4 linked regions of the Homo sapiens genome follow. The protein of the gene in region 2 purifies or fractionates together with the protein of the main gene of each other region. This does not show direct contact. Each region holds a gene or a part of one and is shown on either strand. Other genes may lie near its edges. The genes, in order: SH3PXD2B, RASA2, WDR70 and ZMYM1.

Region 1 (5,232 bases), on a different chromosome or scaffold from region 2:
GCCATCACAGATGTACACTGCAATTCCCTGGTAGGCTCTCTCTGGACTCGGAAGATCTGATGAACGCTCATGACACCCTGTGAGTGGGGAACTGTCACCTCATTTTACGCATGCAGAACGGAGCCTCAGGAGAGCTGAGGAACACACAGCGGGTCCTGTAGAAGGGCCGTCGATCGGAGGAGAGTCAAAGGCAGCGGGGTGGGCTTCAGAGTCACCTAATCTTGCCTCTCAGAAAAGAAACCCCTGGCCGGGCGCGGTGGCTCACACCTGTAATCCCAGCACTTTGGGAGGCCAAGGCGGGCGGATCACCTGGGTCAGGAGTTTGAGACCAGCCTGGCCAACATGGTGAAACCCTGCGTCTACGAAAAATACAAAAAATTAGCTGGGTGTGGTGGCATGCGCCTGTAATCCCAGCTACGCGGGAGGCTGAGGCAGGAGAAACGCTTGAACCTGGGAGGCAGAGGTTGCAGTGAGCCGAGATCGTGCCATTGCACTCCAGCCTGGGCGACAGAGCAAGACTCTGTCTCGAAAAAAAAAAAGACCCTGCTTGGAGAAGGGCTGTGTCCGGGGTAAGAAATTGCAGAAGGAGCAAAGATGGCTGCGGGTACTTTGTGGCCCTTCTGGGAGAGGGATGGCAGCCACAGACTCAGCGCCAGGACGCAAATGCTGGGCTCCTGGGCCTGCAGTCCTGGGTTCTAGTCTTGGCTCTGCCACTTACTGCCTGAGTGGCCTGGGGCAAGCCACGTGCCTCAGATTCCACATCACAGAAGGAAAATGGTAAGAACAATTTAACACCCACTTGTAGAATTTTTGCAGCCGCAAGAGCTAATGCATACAACAGCACTTGGTAAATAATGCTGCTGCGATTAAATTAGAGTGGAGGTCACTGAGCCAGCGGGATGCACTTGACAGGCAGCACTTAATGAGTCCCACTGGAATCTCCAGGAAAGGCCACTGATAAATGTAAGCTGTTTATGTGAGGATGACTGGCATCTTATCAACGCTTGATAGCTCTGGTAAAAATTACAGGCCACACTGGGCATACGAGTCATCGTCAGCACATCCATGAATTCAACAACACTAATACTTAAGTCTGTATGTGAGGAACTGAAAATAGGGTAATCAATATTAGATGTATCAGTAAGATTTGTCAAGCTTACACTCTTTGCAAAGTATTGTGGTAGAAGCTCTGAACATGTGTGTTCTGAACCATGAGGAATGGGCGTTTTCATTTACTAGAGGGAAGCCAAGAACTACTAGGAATAAAAGCAAATGCAAGATCAGAAGCCGGGTGCGGTGGCTCACGCCTGCAATTCCACCGCTTTGGGAGGCTTAGGCGGGCGGATCACCTGAGGTCAGGAGTTCGAGACTAGCCTGGCCAACACGGTGAAACCCCGTCTCTACTAAAAATACAAAAAAAAATTAGCCAGGTGTGATGGCAGGCGCCTGTAATCCCAGCTACTTGGGAGGCTGAGGCAAGAGAATTGTCTGAACCTAGGACGTGGAGGTTGCAGCGAGCCAAGATCATGCCATTACACTCTAGCCTGGGTGACAGAGCAAGATTCCGTCTCAAAGAAAAAAAAAAAGATCACAAGAATGAGGGGAAAGAAAAGAGTGTGGGCTTTAAAACCAGAAAGACCTGGTTTCACAACTCCATTGCTTACTAGCTGTGTTACTAGAGGCAAATAATTTACCTAACCCCCCTGAGTCTCATCTATAAAACATGCTGATAGAAAAAAAAAAAAGAAAAACAAACTAACCAACCAACCCTATGATGCTGGTATTTTGACCTCTTGGGACTTCTGTGAAGATCAGTTATCAAGGAGGTAAGGTACCTGACACAGAAGAGGTGCCTATATCATCATCATCATCATCATCATCATTATCATAACACATCCTGAAGATAAACAGCCTAGACAAGTAACTAAGGTGTTACTGGTAGCCCTACTGCTAGAATGCTGTGGTTCCATTAATGAATTTTGAAGGCTAAGATAATGTTGCAATGAGCCAGGAAGCAAAACTGGAGAAGAGAAAAACAGAGCATATGGATCTATCATAAGAAAACAACATCTAGCCAGGTGCAGTGGCTCACGCCTGTAATGCCAGAACTTTGGGAGGCCGAGGTGGGCAGATCACCTGAGGTCAGGAGTTCGAGACCAGCCTGGCCAACATGGCAAAACCCTGTTTCTACTAAAAATACAAAAATCAGCCGGGCGTCATGTTGGGCGCCTGTAATCCCAGTTACTAGAGAGGCTGAGGCAGGAGAATCACTTGAACCTGGGAGGCGGAGGTTGCAGTGAGCTGAGATTGAGCCATTGCACTCCAGCCTGGGCAACAGAGGAGCGAGGCTCTGTCAAAAAAAAAAAAAAAAAAAAAAAAAAAAGGAGGCACTCAATACATGTGTATACAATGAAAGAGTATGAAGGGGCAGATTTTTCTATAATGGATTAAAACACAATTCAGAATTTTCCCAAATCTCATCCCTTTAGCCCTTCACTCAGATAATAGCAAAGTGAAAACACAAAAGGATTTCCTTCTAGTGAAACATGAAGATACTTCAATGCCTCTGGAAGCAGGGGCCAGAGGATGCAGAACTAGCCTCTCGACTGTAGTACACAGCAAGGCCTGGGCCAGATGTTGTGCCTGGTGGAGCTGCTGGCAAGCTGGAGTAAGGGAAAAGGAAGGAGGAGGATGGAAGAAAGGCAGGAAGGAGGATGGAGGAAAGGAAGGAAGGAGGGAGAGAAAGAAAGAAGGAGGAAGGAGGGAGGAAAGAGAGAAGGAGGGAAAGGAGGGAGGAAAGGAAGAAGGGAAGGAAAACAAAGGAAGGAGGAAGGAGGAAGGAAGGAGGGAGGGAAGGAAAGAAGGAGGGAAGGAAGAAGGGAAGGAAGGAGGGAAGGAAGGAATGAAGGCGTGCAGGCAGGCAGGCTATAGTCCTTCCTGGAATATAGCCAGGAAGGAAGGGAGGGGCCCTAAAGAGGTATGCTGGAGTGAACTGATCAATGGTGTCTACTGCCCTGTGCCATCAGACAGTGCTCTGTGCCAGGGACCAGAGCTGTGTTCTTTAAAGGAAAGAGGATGGTGACGACAACTCTTCAGGGCCTAGAAAAGCAGCCGCCACACACAACCATAGTAGGAGATCCAGGAGCATTTTATTTGTTGCAGAGATGAATAAATTGAACCTTGGCCTCCCAAGGTGAGGTGGGGAGGGTCTGACCAACTCTTACACATGACAGAGTGAATTTGGTGATACCTGTGATTGGCTCACCTGCTTTTGAAAGTGTCTCAAGAACCATCTTTGCCAAAGGTTTCCAAACCCTGGCCCTAGCTGCCATCCCCTTACTTACAGGTTTTCTTGCAAATATGAGAAAGAAATATCTTGAAGCTCTAACCCCATGAGGAAAGGAAAGAGAAATGCAGGAAGAGAATCTGGGGAACAAAGTAGACAAACAGAGAGAGTGGGAAGAAAAGGAGAGAGGAGAAGCAAGAACGGAGGTGGGAGGTGGTAAAGAAAGGCATACAGCCAGTCACACAAGACCACATACTGTGGGATTTCATCTATATGAAATGTCTAAAACAGGCACATCTATGGGGACAGAAAGTGGATTGGTGGCTGCCTAGGGGCTGGCAAGTTGAGGGGAAATGGAGGGTGGCTGTTGATGGGTAAGGAGTTTCTTTTTGTTCTGGAATTAGACAGTGGTGAGGGTTGTGCAACCCTGTGAATATCATAAGCCGCTGAATTTTACACTTAAAATTGTAAACTGTATGGTATGTGAACCATAAAGCTGTTAATCTCCGCCCCACCTCCACCCACCCAGTGAAGTAGGAGGTGACAGGGGAGAAGTAGGAGGTGATGCCTGGAATCAGGAATCACAAGTAGGCAAAGGAACACCAGGGCCACTCACCTCGACCTTCAGGCCTGCCTGGAAGCTGATGCCGTCTGGGATGGTTGTCTGGAATTCGGCGATGGTGTAATACTCTTCCTCCACTTGGGGCGGGATGGGCGGCTTCGGCAGGTTGAGGCCTCGAGGCTGGTACGATCACACACAGGGTTATCTCCAAGGCTAAGTGCACTCCTGCGACCCTGTGTCAGGGGGAGTCTAAGGGCCTGGGGCATGCAATCACCCTTAAGGGGGTGCTGGGGACCTAGTTGGATTCTAAGGGACAACACAAATAGGACCACGCAGTTTGTCACTCCTCGGTGAGACCTCACTGGCCCATCAGCTTTAGGGTGATGGGAAGAAACACGGGACATTTGGGTACAATCATGAGAATTTGGAGCAAGACAATATTCTCTGAAATAAGAGGCAGTGAGGGTTGTGGAGGGAGCTTAAGTTTATTAGTAGATCTATCTGGGTTGGAAACACTGATGGTGGGAGTGTCCTTGGGCAAATCACCCCCTTCTGGAGCCTCAGTTTTCTCTCCTGCAGAGTGGGCATAACAGTGTCTACCTGGTGGGGTTGCTTCAAGTATTAAATTAGTTAATGTTGTGAGGCAATCGGCACGCTGCATGGCACGCAACAGGTGCTTGATAAATAGCAGACATTAAAAAAATACAACCCCAAAAGAGCAAGACCCCGTCTCAAAAACCAATGCAAACAAATAAAAAAAACCCCAAAACCCAACAACAACCCATTGGGTTCAAAGTATTGGCTAAAAAGGTACCTAGAGAATTTTACATAATGGATTATGAGCGCAGAATATCAGAATGGGACCACAGATGATATTTGTGTCTCATCTCAGCTTGGGCCTCAAGTCGCCTGAGAAGACTGATCTAAGACCAAGAGAAGGGCCCAGGGAGCAGAAGGCAGGTCCTGAGGCCCAACTGTCACAGGAGCACTCTGGCCCCGCGGGCAAACTGTTTCACCTGCCTGCACCTCCGTCTTTCCACCTGCGAGTGGGACTAGCATTTCTACAGCCTGCTTCACAAGGCTGTTGTGTGGACAGGAAAGAGAGCATTTCTGGAAGGGCGAGGGGTGTGTGAGGGGCTAGTGGACACCCCTCACAGCCCTCAAGTCAGTGGCCACTCCCCAGTAGCGAGGATCCACTTACAATGGTCATGTCCCGGCGAGGAGGGGGTCTCTGCCTCATCTTTGGTGATCCTATGGAGAAATGAGAGCTTATTACATCTTGTGCTACAGATGAGATTCCTGAGCTGGGTGCCAGGTCGGGTCTATTTTCTCCTGCAGAAGATTGAACACAGGCGTCTGCATGCTGCTGCAACCCTCCCTGTGA
Region 2 (5,832 bases):
CTCTACCAAAAATACAAAAATTAACTGGACATGGTGGCGCGCACCTGTAGTCCCAGCTACTTAGGAGGCTGACATGGGAGGATAGCTTGAGCCCAGGAAGTTGAAGCTGCAGTGAGCTGAGATCGTGCCACTGCACTCCAGCCTAGGCAACAGAGCAAGACTGTCAAAAAAAAAAAGAAAGAAAGAAAGAGAAGAAACAGAAACAGGTTTAGGAAGGTTGAGTAACTTGCCCAAATGTAAAAGGGGTAGAAACAGGCTCTATGTCTGATTCTAAAAAGGGATGCCTTTAAAAATAAGGGGGAAAAAACCCTGTAACACGTTGATACTCTTTAAATGAGAATAATTTTAACAAGGGCAATGACAGAGAATGGAAAGGAAGGAAGAGATTTCAGCAGAGTCAGAAGGATGTGGCAACTGAAAACAGCATTGGGACAAGGGATAAGAAAAAGTCAAAGTTTCTGGCCTGAGTAACAGTATAAGATGTGAACTCAGATTTGGAAAGGGAGACAGGAAATTAAGTTTTGGACTTATGTTTGAAATGACAGCAAAACATTCATATAAGAGGAAGTGGTTCACTTTATCCAACAAGTGTAAAGATCACATGGGGAAATAGAAGTCACCTGCAACACAGGCAGAACTGGAAGCTTCGCTGGCCAGGTCCATGTTAAACTCTGACCATTCTCTGGGGCTGTCCAGCCTTTGCACAGGCGGCGCGTTTGTCTTCAGTTTTCAGGTTTCCCCGTCCTATTTCTTATCTCCCAGTGCCTCTGGCCTTTTCTGTGTCTCCCTCCAGAATGAGCTGGAGCTCTCTTCATCTTGACCTTTGTGTAGTCTCTGAGGTCTGAGGCCATCACTATGTCTGACCCTCAAAAAATATTTGTTGACTGACTGGCTTATTCCTGTTGTTGCCCTGGAAAAGAATTACCCTGCCCGATTAAGTCACAGTTTCTTCCTTCTTAGGGCAGCGTAGTTAACAACCTCAACACCAGGAAATTGTCTTCCTCATCACATACCAGGGTATTATTCATGCAGTTTACTCACTGTAAAGAGTTCCCTTGAAATAAAGCTAACAATTAGTCAAAGATTTACACATTTCCTAGGGTCAGTCAACTTTTTAACAAAGCCAACTTTTAGTAGTGGTGGCGGTGGCGGGGGGGAGCCCTTCTTTGCTTTTTCTGTTCCTGAAATACAAAAGTGATGGTAAATGCTTCAGAATTTCTCTATGAGAGGGTCTCAGGCACTGCACTCACGCTGGAGTTGGGGGTGGCTGGTCCTTTTCTTGAACCAGGTTTTGCAGAGAATTGGTCCTAGTAAAGAGTATTTGTGTGGGAGGAGTTTGGCTTGCTGGCGGGGAGTATTTGGATAATACTGGAAGAGCCTCAAATGCATCTCTTGCCTCCTTTTGAATAAGATACTTTTGAGGTCCACCCACCTGCCAAATTCCATTCTATTTTCTTCCCACAGGGAGTTTCCCTGATTGGGAAGGGCCTGTATTTCCCGCGAGCGTTAGGAGATGTGCAGGTCTATTCATTGGGGGAGCCCAATTCCCGGGAGGATTTAGGGATCACGGGAGGGCCGGGGCGTTCTCCTGGTGGGGATTTTAAGGCCGCTCAGAGCCACGACTGGGAGCTACCCTTAGCCAGCGCCCCAAGCCGGGAGTACGGTTCTCTGCAGGGTAGCCCGGCTCGGGGGTGGCGAAGGCGGTGAATGGAGACCCGGGGGGGGCGGGGGCGGGGCCGCGGCGGGCGGGGCGGGGCGGGGCGAGTCGGGCCGAGGCCCGGGGGCGGGGCCAGGCGCGCGGCTGGCCTGGGCCTAGGCCGCTGCTGGGCTCCGCCTCGCCCGGCTACGCAGGCGGCAGGGCTGCGGCACGGGCCGGGCGGCACCATGGCGGCGGCGGCGCCTGCTGCTGCGGCGGCTTCTTCCGAGGCGCCAGCGGCGAGTGCGACTGCAGAGCCCGAGGCCGGGGACCAGGACAGTCGCGAGGTTCGAGTGTTGCAGAGCCTGCGGGGCAAGATCTGTAAGCGGGGGCTGGGCTGAGGGGACGCCCTGGCGGCGCTGGGCGCGAGGCTGAGGGGGCGGCGGGTTCGCGGCGGTGGCGGCGCCGAGCTGCGCTGGGATCGCGGGCCCGGGAGGGGGCCTGGGCCGGGCGCGGTTGAGGCTGGAAGGGGGTGTGTTGGGGGGCGGCGTCGCCTCGACGGGGCGGCGTGGGCCGGGGCTGCTGCTCTCCGGAGGGAGTGGGAGCTGGAGATGGGCCTGGGGTGGGAGAGCCCGGGCTGCGCCGGCGTGAGGGGCTCGGTCGTGGGGAGCGGCCTGGACGCGGGGACGCTGGAGTCCGGGGCGCGGCCGGGGGCGCGGTCCGGGGGCGTGAGGAGCTTCCGGCCGCCCTCAGACTCAGGCCTTCGCGCGGCTGCGGGCGCTGGGGAGTGGCCCCGCGGTGGGAGCCGAGCAGTAATTATACGGAGGCGCGGCCCGAGGAGGTGGCGGGCTGGGAAGTGGGGCTGGCCCGAGGGGAGGGGGCTGTTCGTTTCCTGGGCTCGGCGAGCCTGGGAGAGGTTGAAAAAGGCGCCCTGAGCTGCAGGAAACGGGCCGCCCTGGGGCCCGAGTGGCTACCGCGCGGTCTGTTCGCGGGTGAGCGCCCCGGGAGGAGCTCGGCGGGACACCTGTACTTGCCCCACCTCGCTGCGGCCGGGACTTGAATCGAGGGACGGCGTGACAGGCGGGACTAAAGGCAGGATGTAGTGGCTTCCTGTGAGCAGGTCTCAAAACACAATCACCCAGCCCGCACTCAGCCCGCTTAATTCCCTTCCTTCTCATGCGTGTAATTGCTACTTTAGTGAGCGAGCCTACCAGTTGACTAAATACGAAATTTTGCTCAGAGTTGTCCGAGCATTACTGTGGACAGATTATTTGAGTTCTGTCATTTGAACATTTTAGTTTTAAAAACGACCCTTTGGTGTCAGGTTGCCATTTTTTTTTTCACAGTGGTTTATTTAGATGAAGTGCTTTTTGTTTTCTGTTTGTAAGAGAGATCAATAACATTTATTTTTGCATTTGTCGAAAATTAGCATTATTTTCTTCATGCAGTATTCTCAGATTGGAAACATGCTTCATGTTTCTTATAAATAACCCTCAATTATGAGGGCGTACTTTTCACTTTGAAGAAAATTGACTTGCATTAAAGTGGCTAACAATTCTTTCCTGGGCAGGATGTAAAATTTTCCTCTCCTCTAATACCAGTACTGTTGAGCTCACATTCTCCCACTTTTCCTCTTTTCAGGTGGTTCACGTATTTGGGATTTTATGAAACCTCAGAAGCAGACATGTTAACTTTTCTTATCTTTTTATTCCCTGAGGTAGTCCTGGGGCTCTTAAGAGATTACAGTTCTTAAAACCTGGAAAGTGACACCAGAGAGGTAGATCTTAGTTCCCAAAATTAAAGTTACTTTCTAGGGCATAAAACCTTTTCAGAATTCAGATTAAATTTTATTTATTTTTTCTTTTTTCTGTAACCTTATATTTGAGGGGAAAATTTTGTTTTCAACTTTTGCATATATCTAATTTAACATTTGGGAAAACTGTAAATGGGCCAAAGTTTCTCCCTTTATATGATTTTCCAGATTTTTACCACTTTCTTAGTGCCACTTGATGCTAGGCATTGTCTATTGGAGACTCACTGGTACGTAACTGCAGGTTTTACCATGGAACTACATATACACATGTCTTGGAATTGAGGGTTAGGGTTTCCAGAAGGACTTAGTTGTCCTGTGCTTTTGTCTGCCCCATGCCAAAGACCACTAAGAACAGTTTTGTAAGTGAAACTTGGGTCTACACGTTAAAAAAAAGAAAAACAAAAAACCACTTTGTTTCTATGGTTTAAAGCAACCCTGGCTTGGAAATTGATCATCCAGCTGCTGGGAATGATATTACTGCTTTAACCACAGTTGAAGTATTCTATCTGTTATCCTAGTCAGTTTCTTGCTTTTTAAATTGCTTATCTTATAGCTCAGGTTATGGAGTGTCTGCTTTCTAGAAAAAAAAAATGTATTTGTATACTTATATACAGAAGCTCTCTTCCCATTTCTTTGTCCTCCTTTTAAATGATGTAATCCACAGTTGGTTGACATTCAGAACCTTGTGAAGAGATGCTGTTTTCTGTTTCCCTGAAACTAACATGTGGGTTTTGTAGGGTGGGGACTGAGGGGTTGGAAGAGTCATTAGCAGGTGTCAAGGTCACAGAAATGAGATGGTGGTGGTTCTGACAAGATATTAAGCAGCTTGGGGAGGGTGTAACCGTGTCAGCTTTTCTCTTCACCACAGTAGGAAACCTTGGAAGAAAGCCTGATAGTGCCCACTAGGAGATGTGCTGGCAGATTTTATACTACTGATTGAGAGCCTCTTTTCTGGAGAGTTAGAGATCTGTAGGGGCTGAAAATTAGCCTGAAGAAATTTTCTTATTTCTGGACTTGCATAGGACTTTTAAACTGCACATCACCCCAGTGAAAAGTGAGGATGGATTGGTTTATGTATCTTGAATGTTCAAGAGATAATAGTCCATAACCTTCTTTAGGGATTTCATTCCTGTAATTATTTCCCCTTATACTTCACAAGGTGAAATATCTGTCAGTTGGACAGATATTTGTCTATTGGACAAGAGGAAACTTAACAAAAAGTGGTAACCAAAAAGGTGGAGGTCACAAAATAACAACATGAGACCTCAATATATATAAAGGATGAAGCCCCAATACCCCTTTTTTGCTTGAGTGTACTTTTTTTTTTTTTTTTGCCGGGGGGCTGGGGAGGAGGGAAGAAGGGACATGCAAATATGTTTCAGGTGTTTTATATGCGCTCAAACGAACCCAGGGAATTCGAGATCCATCTATAAGACAAAATATTGTCAGCAACCCTGGATTTGCTGCAGTTTGCGCTAGGAAACCATGACAGTTCTGAATTGTCTGCTTCCTTAAACTTTTTCAAGAGGTGAGTTTGGTTGTTTGATATCCTAAGGTTGTCATATGAACCCTTGATAAAGGAAATTAGGGGTGTACTCGACTCCATTCTTCGGTCTGCACTCCTGTGTAGCGAGTAGCAAGTATGCTAGAACACCTGAAACACATTTGCATGCTCCCTCCTCCCCTCAAAAAAAAAAAAAAAAAAAAAACCGTATTCAAACAGAAAAGAGGGATTGGGGCTTCCTCCTTTATGTATCTTCAGGCTTCATGCTGTTATTTGGTGACCTCCTTTTTGATTAGCACTTGTTAAGTTTCCTCTTATCCAATTACATTAGATTGTAAAAATGTTGCGGAGAGCACCCATGCCACCATATGTGTGGGCTTATCTACTCAAGGAATACCAGATCAATAAGAGAGCCAAATGGGAAAATTTTGTGTGAATTTTCAGATGTGTGGTACAGTGCGAGATCTGTGGGACTATGTGTTCCAAAACTCACTTAGTTTCTCTGGTGTCTTCAGACCAAGAATAGCCTAGGGTTATTTGACAGAGTAGGGAAGATCTATAGGGTATGGTTAAGTGCTTGAGCTTAGAGGCTGGGTGAAAAAGTTAGTTACCTGGGTTTGAATCTTCACCTAATTTCCAACTTTTGTTAATGTCTTTGGGCCTTCATATTCTCATATATAAAATGGGGATAGTAAAAATACCTATCTCACGGGTTGTTATGAGGTTTAAATAAGCCTCCCTCCCTACTCTGCCCCTCCTCATCTCTGCCTGCTCTTTCTCACTCCCCAGGATCTGGGTCATACACCGACCATCTCTTAGGAAGGAGTAAAGTAGGAGATAAAAACTAATCTTCATCTGATGTTCTTGTCCAATGTATAC
Region 3 (5,788 bases), on a different chromosome or scaffold from region 2:
GTCAAGACGGGGTTTCACCATGTTGGCCAGGCTGGTCACGAACTCCTGACCTTACGTGATTCACCTGCCTCAGCCTCCCAAAGTGCTGGGATTACAGGCATGAGCCATTACACCTGGCCCATTGTTGGTCTTAAAATGATAAATTGGGCCGGGTGCGGTGGCTCACACCTGTAATCCCAGCACTTTAGGAGGCAGGCAGATCACAAGATCAAGAGATCAAGACCATCCTGGCTAACATGGTGAAACCCCATCTCTACTAAAAATACAAAAATTAGCTGGGCGTGGTGGCGTACACCTGTAGTCCCAGCTACCTGGGGGGCTGAGGCAGGAAAATTGCTTGAACCGGGGAGGTAGAAGTTGCAGTGAGCTAAGATCGCACCCCTGCACTCCAGCCCAGCAATAAAGCGAGACTCCATCTCAAAAACAAAACAAAACAAAACAAAAAAACAAAAAGCGGGGCACAGTGGTTCACGTCTGTAATCCCAGCACTTTGGGAGGCCAAGGTAGGCAGATCACAAGGTCAGGAGTTCGAAACTAGCCTGGCCAACACAGTGAAACCCCATCTCTACTAAAAATACAAAAAATTAGCTGGGCGTGGTGGCATGTGCCTATAGTCCCAGCTACTCGGGAGGCAGAGGCAGGAGAATCGCTTGAACCGGGGAGGTGGAGGCTGCAGTGAGCCGAGATCATGCCATTGCACTCCAGCCTGGGCAACAGGGCGAGACTCCATCTCAAAAAAAAAAAAAAACAACAGTGATAAGTAGCATAACAACATTCTTTTCTCTCTTTGTTCTCTGAGATGGAATTTCACTCTTGTCCCCCAAGCTGGAGTGCAATGGGGGTATATCAGCTCACTGCAACCTCTGCCTCCCGACTTCAACTGAAGCCACTGCCTCAGCCTCACGACTAGCTGGGATTACAGGCCCCTGCACCATGCCCAGCTAATTATTGTATTTTTAGTTGAGATGGGGTTTCACCATGTTGGCCAGGCTGGTCTCAAACTTCTGACCTCAGGTGATCTGCCCGCCTTGGCCTCCCTAAGTGCTGGGATTACAGGCATGAGCCACCGCGCCCAGCCAACATTCTTTTCTCTTTTTTAATATACTTGCATGAGGTATACATAGTACTTAAACCAATAAAAGAACAAATATCTGAGCTTCTTACCCAGTGTTTTGCGACTTCTTTCCACAGCTGTCCTTCGAGTTTGTTCAAACATTGCTTCCAAGTCAAATGTGCGAGCTTTTTTACCTAAAACATGAACAAATGGGAGACTGTGATTGTCTTGCAGTAAGTTGGCCAAACTTTAGGTGATCAATACTGATCAATAAACACTTACTTTGTCTAGTTTATAGCATGGCTCCAATATAACCATAATATATCACAGAAGAAGGAGTTTGAGTCACAGAAAACTTCTGCTGACAATCCCTTCACTAAGTACTATTAACCAGGCAACTTTCCCATCCTCCTCTAGATCCCTACCCTATGAAACAACAACACTGATGTGGGGAGGCAAAATGGAGAATGCCCCAAAAGTTACCCTTTGCAATATAATTAAGGTTATGGACTTTTAAATAGGGAAACTATCCTATTTGGCCCTTAAAGGCAAAGATGCAGAACAGCTATGGCAGAAGAAGTCAGAGAGATCCAATGTCTGAGAAGAATTTGAGGCATTATAGTTGGCTTGAAGACGAAAGGGGCAACATGAGAAGTAATGCAGGTACTTTAAGGAGCTAAGAGGGAAACAGAAATCTCAGCCCTCTAACAAGGAACTGGATGAGCATGGAAACATTCTCCTCCTCCCCCAGTAACTTTATCAAAACTCTTAAAATTTTCCCCTATTTGGCACAAACATATGGACAACTTTCTCACTCCTGAGTAAAGGAATGATGTACTAAAATGAAGGATTTATACCGGGTGGGGTGGCTCATGCCTGTAATCACTTTGAGAGGCTCAGGTGGGCGGACTGCTTGAGCTCAGGAGATTGATCAGCCTGGGCAACATGGTGAAACCTCGTCTCTACCAAAAGTATAAAAAATTAGCCAGGTGTGGTGGCACACATCTGTGGTCCCAGCTACTCAGGAGACTAAGGTGGGAGGATGGCTTAAGCCTGGGAGGAGGAGGCTGCAATGAGCGAAGATCGCACTAGTACACTCCAGCCTGGGTGACAGAGCGAGACTCCATCTCAAAAAATAAAAAAAGAATAGAAAAGGCTGGGCACAGTGGCTCACGCCTGTAATCCCAGCACTTTCGGAGGCCGAGACGGGCGGATCACGAGGTCAGGAGATCGAGATCATCCTGGCTAACACGGTGAAACCCTGTCTCTACTAAAAATACAAAAAAAAAATCAGCCGGGCGAGGTGGCGGGCGCCTGTAGTCCCAGCTACTCGGGAGGCTGAGACCGGAGAATGGCGTGAATCCGGGAGGCAGAGATTGCAGTGAGCCGAGATCTTGCCACCGCACTCCAGCCTGGGCGACTGAGCGAGACTCCGTCTCCAAAAAAAAAAAGAATGAATAGAGAAACTACAGAACTAGTATGTGTGAACACAACCCAAGGCCAATATGTGTAAGTCTACTGTTTAATTACTATCATAGAATTAATACACGCTGGTCAAAAGAAAACAAGAAGACCTTGAGAAAAGGTTCAGGGAAGTTAGAATCCCAATGTTTGGATGAACAGCATTTATAATTTTAAAATGGAAAATAAAGAGAAATCATTTTTCATGTATCAGTCTACTAAGTTTTGTTTTCATTTTTTAAATAATTTTCTTTTTAAATAATAATACCTACTCTGTGTTGGTAGGGATATGGTAAAAATGGCATTCTTAATTCTGTTAACTTTGGTATAACCTGGAACAAGTTTTTTGATGGGTATTACGGCAATAAGCATCAAGAAGCTTTAAAAGGCACATACCCAATTTTTCAGCTTTTTAAGTATTTATATTTCTGAATAAACTACACTCTCTTTTAGAAATCTACCCTACCGAATTACGTATTTTTAAAAATCCTCGTACAAATGCTGTTATTTACAAAAATGTTCATTTTAGCATTATTGGTGACTTAAAATTAGAAAAATCCTTTCTCTTCCTCTCTCTCCAGACTCTCATAACTGTCATCTGAGTTGGTTCCAACGGATAACGCAGAATAGAAGACAAATGGGAGAAGAATATTGACAAACTGCAAGGTATGCACCCGAGCTACAATAATTCCGAGTTGACAGCTCGATCTCCACTCCCACTCTGCGGATCTTCAAACCTCTGCACAAGGAAGAGGGTCTCTGCCTGGGGCAGTCACTCACCGAACCCCGTGAAGCCCATGGTGACCGCAAGCTGCGGGTCCGGTCCCGACGCGTCTGAGCCTGTCACTGGAGCAAGAGGAAAAGAGAGGCGGCCTAGTTAGTGCGGCGCCCCAGCTCCCCCGACACGGCCCACCCCGCCCGGACTCGCCTCATGAAACCCACCTTCGCTGGGCCCAGAGCGCTCCATGGCTGGCCGCACACCCCAGAACCAGCCACAGGGACAGCCCAAACAACTGCAGGGGAACTTGCCAATAACTTGCGGCAAATGCTGGAGGAAGTACCGCCTTCAAGCTACAGCGGCGCCGCCGAAGCCAAGAGCGGCGCCTTCCGCAGAGGGACCGCGGCTTTCTGCGCGGCACCGCCCTACCGGACAGGCGGGAAAGCGCCGCGCAACTCAGACCACTGGAGGGGAGAAGTAGTATCTGGAGTTTCTATAACATCCTTTCCCTTTTTTTTTTTTTTTTTTTAAGCCAGAGCCTCTGTCGCCCAGGCTGCAGTACAGTGGCGTAATCTCAGCTGACTGCAACCTCTGCCTCCCGGGATCAAGCGATTCTCCTGCCTCAGCCTCCCGAGTAGCTGGGATTACAGGTGCCGGCTAATTTTTGGTTTTTTGTTTTGGTTTGTTTTTTTTTTGTTTTTGTTTTTGTTTTGAGACGGAGCCTCTGTCGCCCAGGCTGGAGTGCAATGGCGTGATCTCGGCTCACTGCAACCTCCGCCTCCCGGGTTCAAGCGATTCTCCTGTCTCAGCCTCCCAAGTAGCTGGGATTACAGGCGTCCACCACCACGCGCAGCTAATTTTTTGTATTTTTAGTAGACACGACGTTTTGCCATGTTGGCCAGGCTGGTTTCGAACTCCTGGCCTCAAGTGATCCGCCTGCCTCGGCCTCCCAAAGTGCTGGGATTACAGGCGACACCCTTTGCTTTTTTTTTTTTTTTTTTTTTTTTTGAGGCAGAGTCTCACTCTGTTGCCCAGGCTGGAGTGCAATGGCGTGATCTCGGCTCACTGCAACCTCTGCCACCCAGGTTCAAGCTCTTCTCTTGCCTCAGTGTCCTGAGTAGCTGGGATTACAGGCGCCTGCCACCACACCCGGCTAATTTTTGTGTATTTAGTAGAGACGGGGTTTTGCTATGTTGGCCAGGCTGGTCTTGAACTCCTGACCTCAGGTGATCTGCCCACCTTGGCCTCCCAAAGTGCTGGGATTACAGGCCCCGTGCCACCGCGCTCTGCCTTTTTGTTGTTGTTGTTGTTGTTGTTGACTGAGTCTCCCTCTGTTGCCTTGGCTGGAGTGCAGTGGCGTGATCTCAGCTGACTGCAACCTCTGCCTCCCAGGTTCAAGCGATTCTCTTGCCTCAGCCTCCCGAGCAGCTGGGACTACAGGTGTGCGCCACCATGCCCGGCTATTTAGTATTTGAGACTACAGGCACCCGCCACCACGCCCAGCTAATTTTTTCTATTTTTAGTAGAGGCAGGGTTTACACCGTGTTAGCCAGGATGGTCTCAATCTCCTGACCTTGTGATCTGCCCACCTCAGCCTCCCAAAGTTCTGCGATTAAAGGCGTGAGCCACTGCACCTGGCCTGTCAGTCTAAAGTTTACAAGGCTAATCGTGTGCTCAGGATTGTCCTTCTTAAACAGAATGTGGGAGTTCAACACTTTAACGTTTAGAAGGTGGAGAAGAATCTCTTTCTTTTTGAGACAGAATCTCACTCTGTCACCCAGGCTGGAATGCAGTGGCACAATCTCGGCTCAATGAACCTCCACCTCCTGGGTTCAAGCGATTCTTGTGCCTCAGCCTCCTAAGTAGCTGGGATTACATGTGACCGCCACCACACCCGACTTTTTTTTTTTTTTTTGAGACAGAGTCTCGCTCCATTGCCCAGACTGGAGTGCAGTGGCGCGATCTCAGCTCACTGCAACCTCCGCCTCCTGGGTTCAAGCAATTCTGCCACAGCCTTGCGAGTAGCTGGGATTACAGGCCCTGCCACCACCCCTGGCTAATTTTTGCATTCTTAGTAGAGACAGAGTTTCACCATGTTGGCCAGGCTGGTCTCAAACTCCTGACCTCAAGTGATATGCCCGCCTCAGCCTCCCAAAGTGCTGGGATTACAGACGTGAGCCACTGTGCCCGGCCTAATTTTTGTATTTTTTGTAGAGATAGGGTTTCATCATGTTGCCCATGCTGGTCTTGAACTCCTGAGCTCAAGCGATCCACCCGCCTCAGCCTCCCTAAGTGCTAGGATTACAGGCGTGGGCCACTGCACACAGCCTATGAAAGAATATCTTATACCAAACCTTGTACCTTTGGCGCTAAGCTGGATAAGAAGTGAGCATCTGATCAGCCAAGTCCACTGCTCCCATATTATCGTTATAATCCACAATGACACATGGCTTCTTAGTTTTCTTTCCATCTGTTGTCTACTTCAATCACAGTATCATTGTGGAATATTGACAACATTGTGACTGCCTTGTTGTCACACCATTTCAGTGCCATAA
Region 4 (5,232 bases), on a different chromosome or scaffold from region 2:
TTTTCTTTTTTCATTAAAGTTCTGGGGTGTATGTGCAGAACGTGCAGTTTTGTTATATAGGTATACACATGCCATGGTGGTTTGCTGCACCCATCAACCTGTCACCTATATTAGGTATAGCTTCTAATGCTATCCCTCCCAGCAAGGTCTCTTTTTCAAAGACAGATTGGTTCCTTCTTTTCTCCTTTTTCCTTGACTGAGGCCTACTTTCCACTTATCTGGTAGCTGTTACCTCTGATTCTAAATCCTTTGGAACCCTTTCCCTTCCTGCCACCCTAGCTTGGCTTCAGAGTGCAAGTCTTCCTGTCTCCTAGATCCTTAAAAAAGAGCCTTATAGGCCAGGCTCGGTGGCTCACGCCTGTAATCCCAGCACTTGGGGAGGCCGAGGTGGGTGGATCACGAGGTCAGGAGATCGAGGCCATCCTGGCTAACATGGTGAAACCCCATCTCTACTAAAAATACAAAAAAATTAGCCGGGCGTGGTGGCAGGTGTCTGTAGTCCCAGCTACTCTGGGAGGCTGAGGCAGGAGAATGGCATGAGCCCGGGAGGCGGAGCTTGCAGTGAGCCGAGATCGCGCCACTACACTCCAGCCTGGGCGACAGAGCGAGACTCTGTCTCAAAAAAAAAAAAAAAAGAGCCTTATATCGGGCACCTGTAGTCCCAGCTACTCGGGAGGCTGAGGCAGGAGAATGGCGTGAACCTGGGAGGCAGACCTTGCAGTGAACCAAGATCATGCCACTGCACTCCAGTCTGGGTGACAGAACAAGACTCCATCTCAAAAAAAAAAAAAAAAAAAAAAAAAGCCTTACAACTAATCATTATGGAGGGCAGATGATAACTAACACAAATGTGGAGAAGTTGAAGTTGTTACAGGATCACTTAGAATAATGGGCTCAAAAAAAGAAAAAAATAACAAAAAACCTCTTACAGGAGTAATTCCAGGACTATGGTTTTATTCTGGGTTAGTACATGAAAGACCCAAGTAATTCTGCCATTATTTTTTATTTCTGTGATTGGGGCTCAACCACCTTCCCTCATTTCCATCTTTAGCTCAGCTTTTGTTGAAAGTTCCTATCCCAATGCAGAAAGTTAAATAAGGCCTGAGAGTCAAGTGCAATAAATAGCTCATACAGCCTCTGTCCAGCCCATTTGAGCATTATACACAAACAGTAAAGCAAAACTCACTAAAAATTAACTATTTGTCATTAGGTAGATTCCCTTCACCTGAAAGTACACATGCCATGCAAGTCTTAAACATCAATTAAAAACAAAGCACCGAGTTTTGTGCAGTGGCGGTATCACAGCCAATGAGGTTTACGTGAGGTACAATTATTGTTATTCGTAAGATAAAACAAAACAAAGTACCTATGAGCTTTGGCATCTTGCAACTCCTTCAAATGTGTCACCATACAAACATAAAAATAGTGGAGGCTGGGCGCAGTGGCTCATGCCTGAAATCCCTGCGCTCTGGGAGGCTGAGGTGGGTGGATGAGGAGGTCGGGAGTTCAAGACCAGCCTGGCCAACACAGTGAAACCCCATCTCCACTAAAAAATACAAAAAATTAGCCGGGCGTGGTGGTGGGCGCCTGTAATCCCAGCTACTCGGAAGGCTGAGACAGTAGAATTGCTTGAATCTGGGAGGCAGAGGTTGCAGTGAGCCGAGATCATGCCATTGCACTCCAGCTCAGGCAAGAGTGTGAGACTCTGTCTCAAAAACAAAAAAAAAAAAAAAAAAGGAAAGCATCCTGAAAATTTCTGAGGCAAGGGAAAATGCTATGCAACATTTGTTTGGCTATAAGAAGAGCAAAACATGTATTAGTGACAGATCCATTACTTCCTTTTCCAACAAGATGCACATTAGAGTAAAATAAGTCCTACAGACTTTCTTTTAATATAGCCCTACTCATCTTTCCAAACTAGGGCTAAATCATAGTATGAAAGAGTACAGGTATTAATAGTCAAAGGATGAATGTTGCACATCTTCCTGCTGGGCAATACTACTTGGTAGTAATATAAAATATATATACATATATGTACATACACACACACACACACACACACACACACACACACACACACACACACATATATATATATATATATATACACATAAACACATTTTTGAGATGGAGTCTCACTCTGTTGCCCATGCTGGAGTGCAGCGGTACGATCACGGCTCACTGCAACCTCCACCTCCCGGGTTCAAGCGATTCTCCTGCCTGAGCATCCTGTGTAGCTGGGATTACAGGCACGTGCTACCAAGCTCAGCTAATTTTTGTATTTTTAGTAGAGACGGGTTTTCACCATGTTGGCCAGGATGGTCTCGATCACCTGACCTTGTGATCCGCCTGCCTCGGCCACCCAAAGTGTTGGGATTACAGGTGTGAGCCACCGCGCCCAGCCATAAAATATTTTAATTTAAACCAAAGAGAGAAATATGATAAGAGCAGACAACAAAATTCACATTCATTTTTTTTTCTTGAGATGGAATCTCTCTCTGTCACCCAGGCTGGAGTGCAGTGACATAATCTCAGCTCACTGCAACCTCCGCCTCCCAGGTTCAACCAATTATCTGCCTCAGCCTCCTGAGTAGCTGGGATTATAGGCACCAGCCAGCATGCCTGGCTAAGTTTTGTATTTTTAGTAGAGATCGGGTTTCACCATCTTGGCCAGGCTGGTCTTGAACTACTGACCTCATGATCCACCGGCCTCAGCCTCCCAAAGTGCTGGGATTACAGGCATGAGCCACTGCCCTCGGCCCATATTCATTCTTAAAGTAAAACACGAGATCACAAAGAAACTGCAAGTTTCGAGGCCAGGCGTGGTGGCTCACGCCTGTAATCCCAGAACTTTGGGAGGCCAACGCGGGCTGATCACCTGAGGTTGGGAGTTCGAGACCAGCCTGACCAACATGGAGAAACCCTGTCTCTACTAAAAATACAAAAAATTAGCCGAGCGTGGTGGGGCATGCCTGTAATCCCAGTTATTTGGGAGGCTGAGGCAAGAGAATCACTTGCACCCAGGAGGCAGAGGTTGCAGTGAACTGAGACTGCGCCATTGCACTCCAGCCTGGGCAAGAAGAGCGAAACTCCATCTCAAAAAAAAAAAAGAAAATGCAAGTTTCAAGAGTTATTTCCAGATACACATATAGACCTCCAGGGGATATCATCCAGATTCCTCCTGGAAAATTAGTACAATAGTATTTATATAACCCTGATGGTTCAAACTACTGTTAAAAAATGAATTTTTGGGCGGGCACAGTGGCTCACCTCTGTAATCCCAGCACTTTGGGAGCCTGAGGCAGGCAGATTACCTGAAGTCAGGAGTTCGAGACTAGCCTGGCCAACATGGTAAAACCCCATCTCTACTCAAAATTCAAAAAATTAGTCAGGTGTGGTGGCACACACCTGTAGTTCCAGCTCTTGGGAGGCTGAGACAGGAGAATCTCTTGACCTGGGAGATGGAGGCTGCTGTGAGTGGAGATCGTGCCACTGCACTCCAGCCTGGGTACGACAGAGCAAGACTCCATCTCAAAAAAAAAAAAAAAAAAAAAAAAAAGGCTGGGTGCGGTGGCTCATGCCTGTAATCCCAGCACTTTGGGAGGCTGAGGTGGGTGGATCACAGGGTCAGGAGTTCAAAATCAGCCTGGCCAAGATGGTGAAACCCTGTTTCTACTAAAAATACAAAAAAAATTAGCCAAGCGTGGTGGTGGGCGCCTGTAATCCCTGCTACTCGGGAGGCTGAGGCAGAGAATTGCTTAAACCCAGGAGGTGGAGGATGTAGTGAGCTGAGATCAAGCTCACTGTCGCTCAAGCCTGGGTGACAGTGCGAAACTGCATCTCAAAAGAAAAAAAAAGAATTTTTTAATTGAAAAAAAAATTGCATGAGATTTCAATGAAATATAAGGCAGTTACAATAATGAAAGGAAACTGCATGACGATGAATAAGATTCACAGACATATAATCTCAAAACTAATTTATATAGAGACTATTTTTTTTACTGCTACAGATTAAGTTACAATCTTGATTGGAGACAGAGTTGAACAAATTTAGCAACAAACAGTCATTTTCTGCTTTTTATAAATAGCCCAGACTGTAGTCCCAGCTACTCAGGAGGCTGAGGCAGGAGGATCACCTGAACCTGGGAGGCAGAGGTTGCAGTGAGATATGATTGCGCCACCACACTCCAGCCTGTGTGACAGAGTAAGATTCCATCTCAGAATAAATAAATAAAATAAACTAATAACCCAATATTGAAAATTTTGGGAAAAAACCTTAAAATTCTGTATATATTGAAAATTTTGGGAAAAAACCTTAAAATTCTGTATGAATATAAATATGACTTGAAGAAATGATTTTAAAAAGCCACATTATGAATGACAGTGATTTATATAATGAAATTCAAATCTTCAATATTTTCTGTGATAACAATTTACCATGAGTAACCCAAATACAATGTTTAAACGTAATACATAAAATTGAATTCTGTCATCATTGAAAATTTGCTTACTTTCAGTCCTGAAAACCACAGCTTTACACGTGTTTTTCTATTTGGTCATTACAAAGGTGTATTTGTCACGGCAGGAGGATGGAACTCATTTTATTCCACGATGTGTTAGCTTAATTTATAACTTTTAAATATTTAGACACAGAGTATGTGGGCTTCCATTCATACTCTTAGCAAGGACCCCACAAATGCTAGGGGCCAGTGTGAACCTAGCACTCCAACCACAAGTACATTTCAAAACTAGGCTGGGAATGAGGGGTACAGAATACTGATTTAACAACAATAATTCCCTATTAGAGCTAGGTGGCTGGCATGTGCCACACCAAAGGCAAGAAAGGGCAGGCCCAAGAGAGCTCTAGGAATGACTGTTCAAGGAAGGAGGCTATTGTCCCTGAAGCTGGAATGTAGTCATGGAGGTGGTTTCAGGGTCAGGAAAGGACAGCTGCAGCCAAAGGGAGATCTACAACAACCACAGGAGAAAACACTATCCTCCTCTTTGGGCCAGAGGGAAAGGGAGACAGATGTCAAGGCAAAGAATCAGCTGCACCTTAACCTCCTCACTTTACTTGTCCTCATACTGCTTTCCTTCCTGCCAAAGTCATTTCTGCCTAATCAGATCCTATGCAGTTTGGAAACCAACTGAGCTCCAGATTTTAACAGACTAGCATGAAGTAAAAATAATATGGGGGCCGGGCGCGGTGGCTCACGCCTGTAATCCCAGCAC

Evidence for each region.
Region 1: the proteins of RASA2 (region 2) and SH3PXD2B purify together in Homo sapiens (affinity purification with mass spectrometry; one large-scale study listed by BioGRID and IntAct). This does not show direct contact.
Region 3: the proteins of RASA2 (region 2) and WDR70 purify together in Homo sapiens (affinity purification with mass spectrometry; one large-scale study listed by BioGRID and IntAct). This does not show direct contact.
Region 4: the proteins of RASA2 (region 2) and ZMYM1 purify together in Homo sapiens (affinity purification with mass spectrometry; one large-scale study listed by BioGRID and IntAct). This does not show direct contact.

Annotation. Positions count from the first base shown.
Region 1 is NC_000005.10:172,342,234-172,347,465, forward strand, and holds part of SH3PXD2B (SH3 and PX domain-containing protein 2B), read right to left. Parts: intron 5,100-5,232; coding exon 5,050-5,099; intron 4,029-5,049; coding exon 3,903-4,028; intron 1-3,902. UniProt on the Homo sapiens protein: Adapter protein involved in invadopodia and podosome formation and extracellular matrix degradation. Binds matrix metalloproteinases (ADAMs), NADPH oxidases (NOXs) and phosphoinositides.
Region 2 is NC_000003.12:141,485,200-141,491,031, forward strand, and holds the start of RASA2 (ras GTPase-activating protein 2), read left to right. Parts: upstream 1-1,827; 5' UTR 1,828-1,884; coding exon 1,885-2,017; intron 2,018-5,832. UniProt on the Homo sapiens protein: Inhibitory regulator of the Ras-cyclic AMP pathway. Binds inositol tetrakisphosphate (IP4).
Region 3 is NC_000005.10:37,377,062-37,382,849, reverse strand, and holds the start of WDR70 (WD repeat-containing protein 70), read right to left. Parts: upstream 3,533-5,788; 5' UTR 3,483-3,532; coding exon 3,458-3,482; intron 3,362-3,457; coding exon 3,296-3,361; intron 1,249-3,295; coding exon 1,165-1,248; intron 1-1,164.
Region 4 is NC_000001.11:35,085,310-35,090,541, reverse strand, and holds part of ZMYM1 (zinc finger MYM-type protein 1), read right to left. Parts: intron 1,794-5,232; exon of another isoform or gene 1,383-1,793; coding exon of another isoform or gene 1,367-1,382; intron 1-1,366.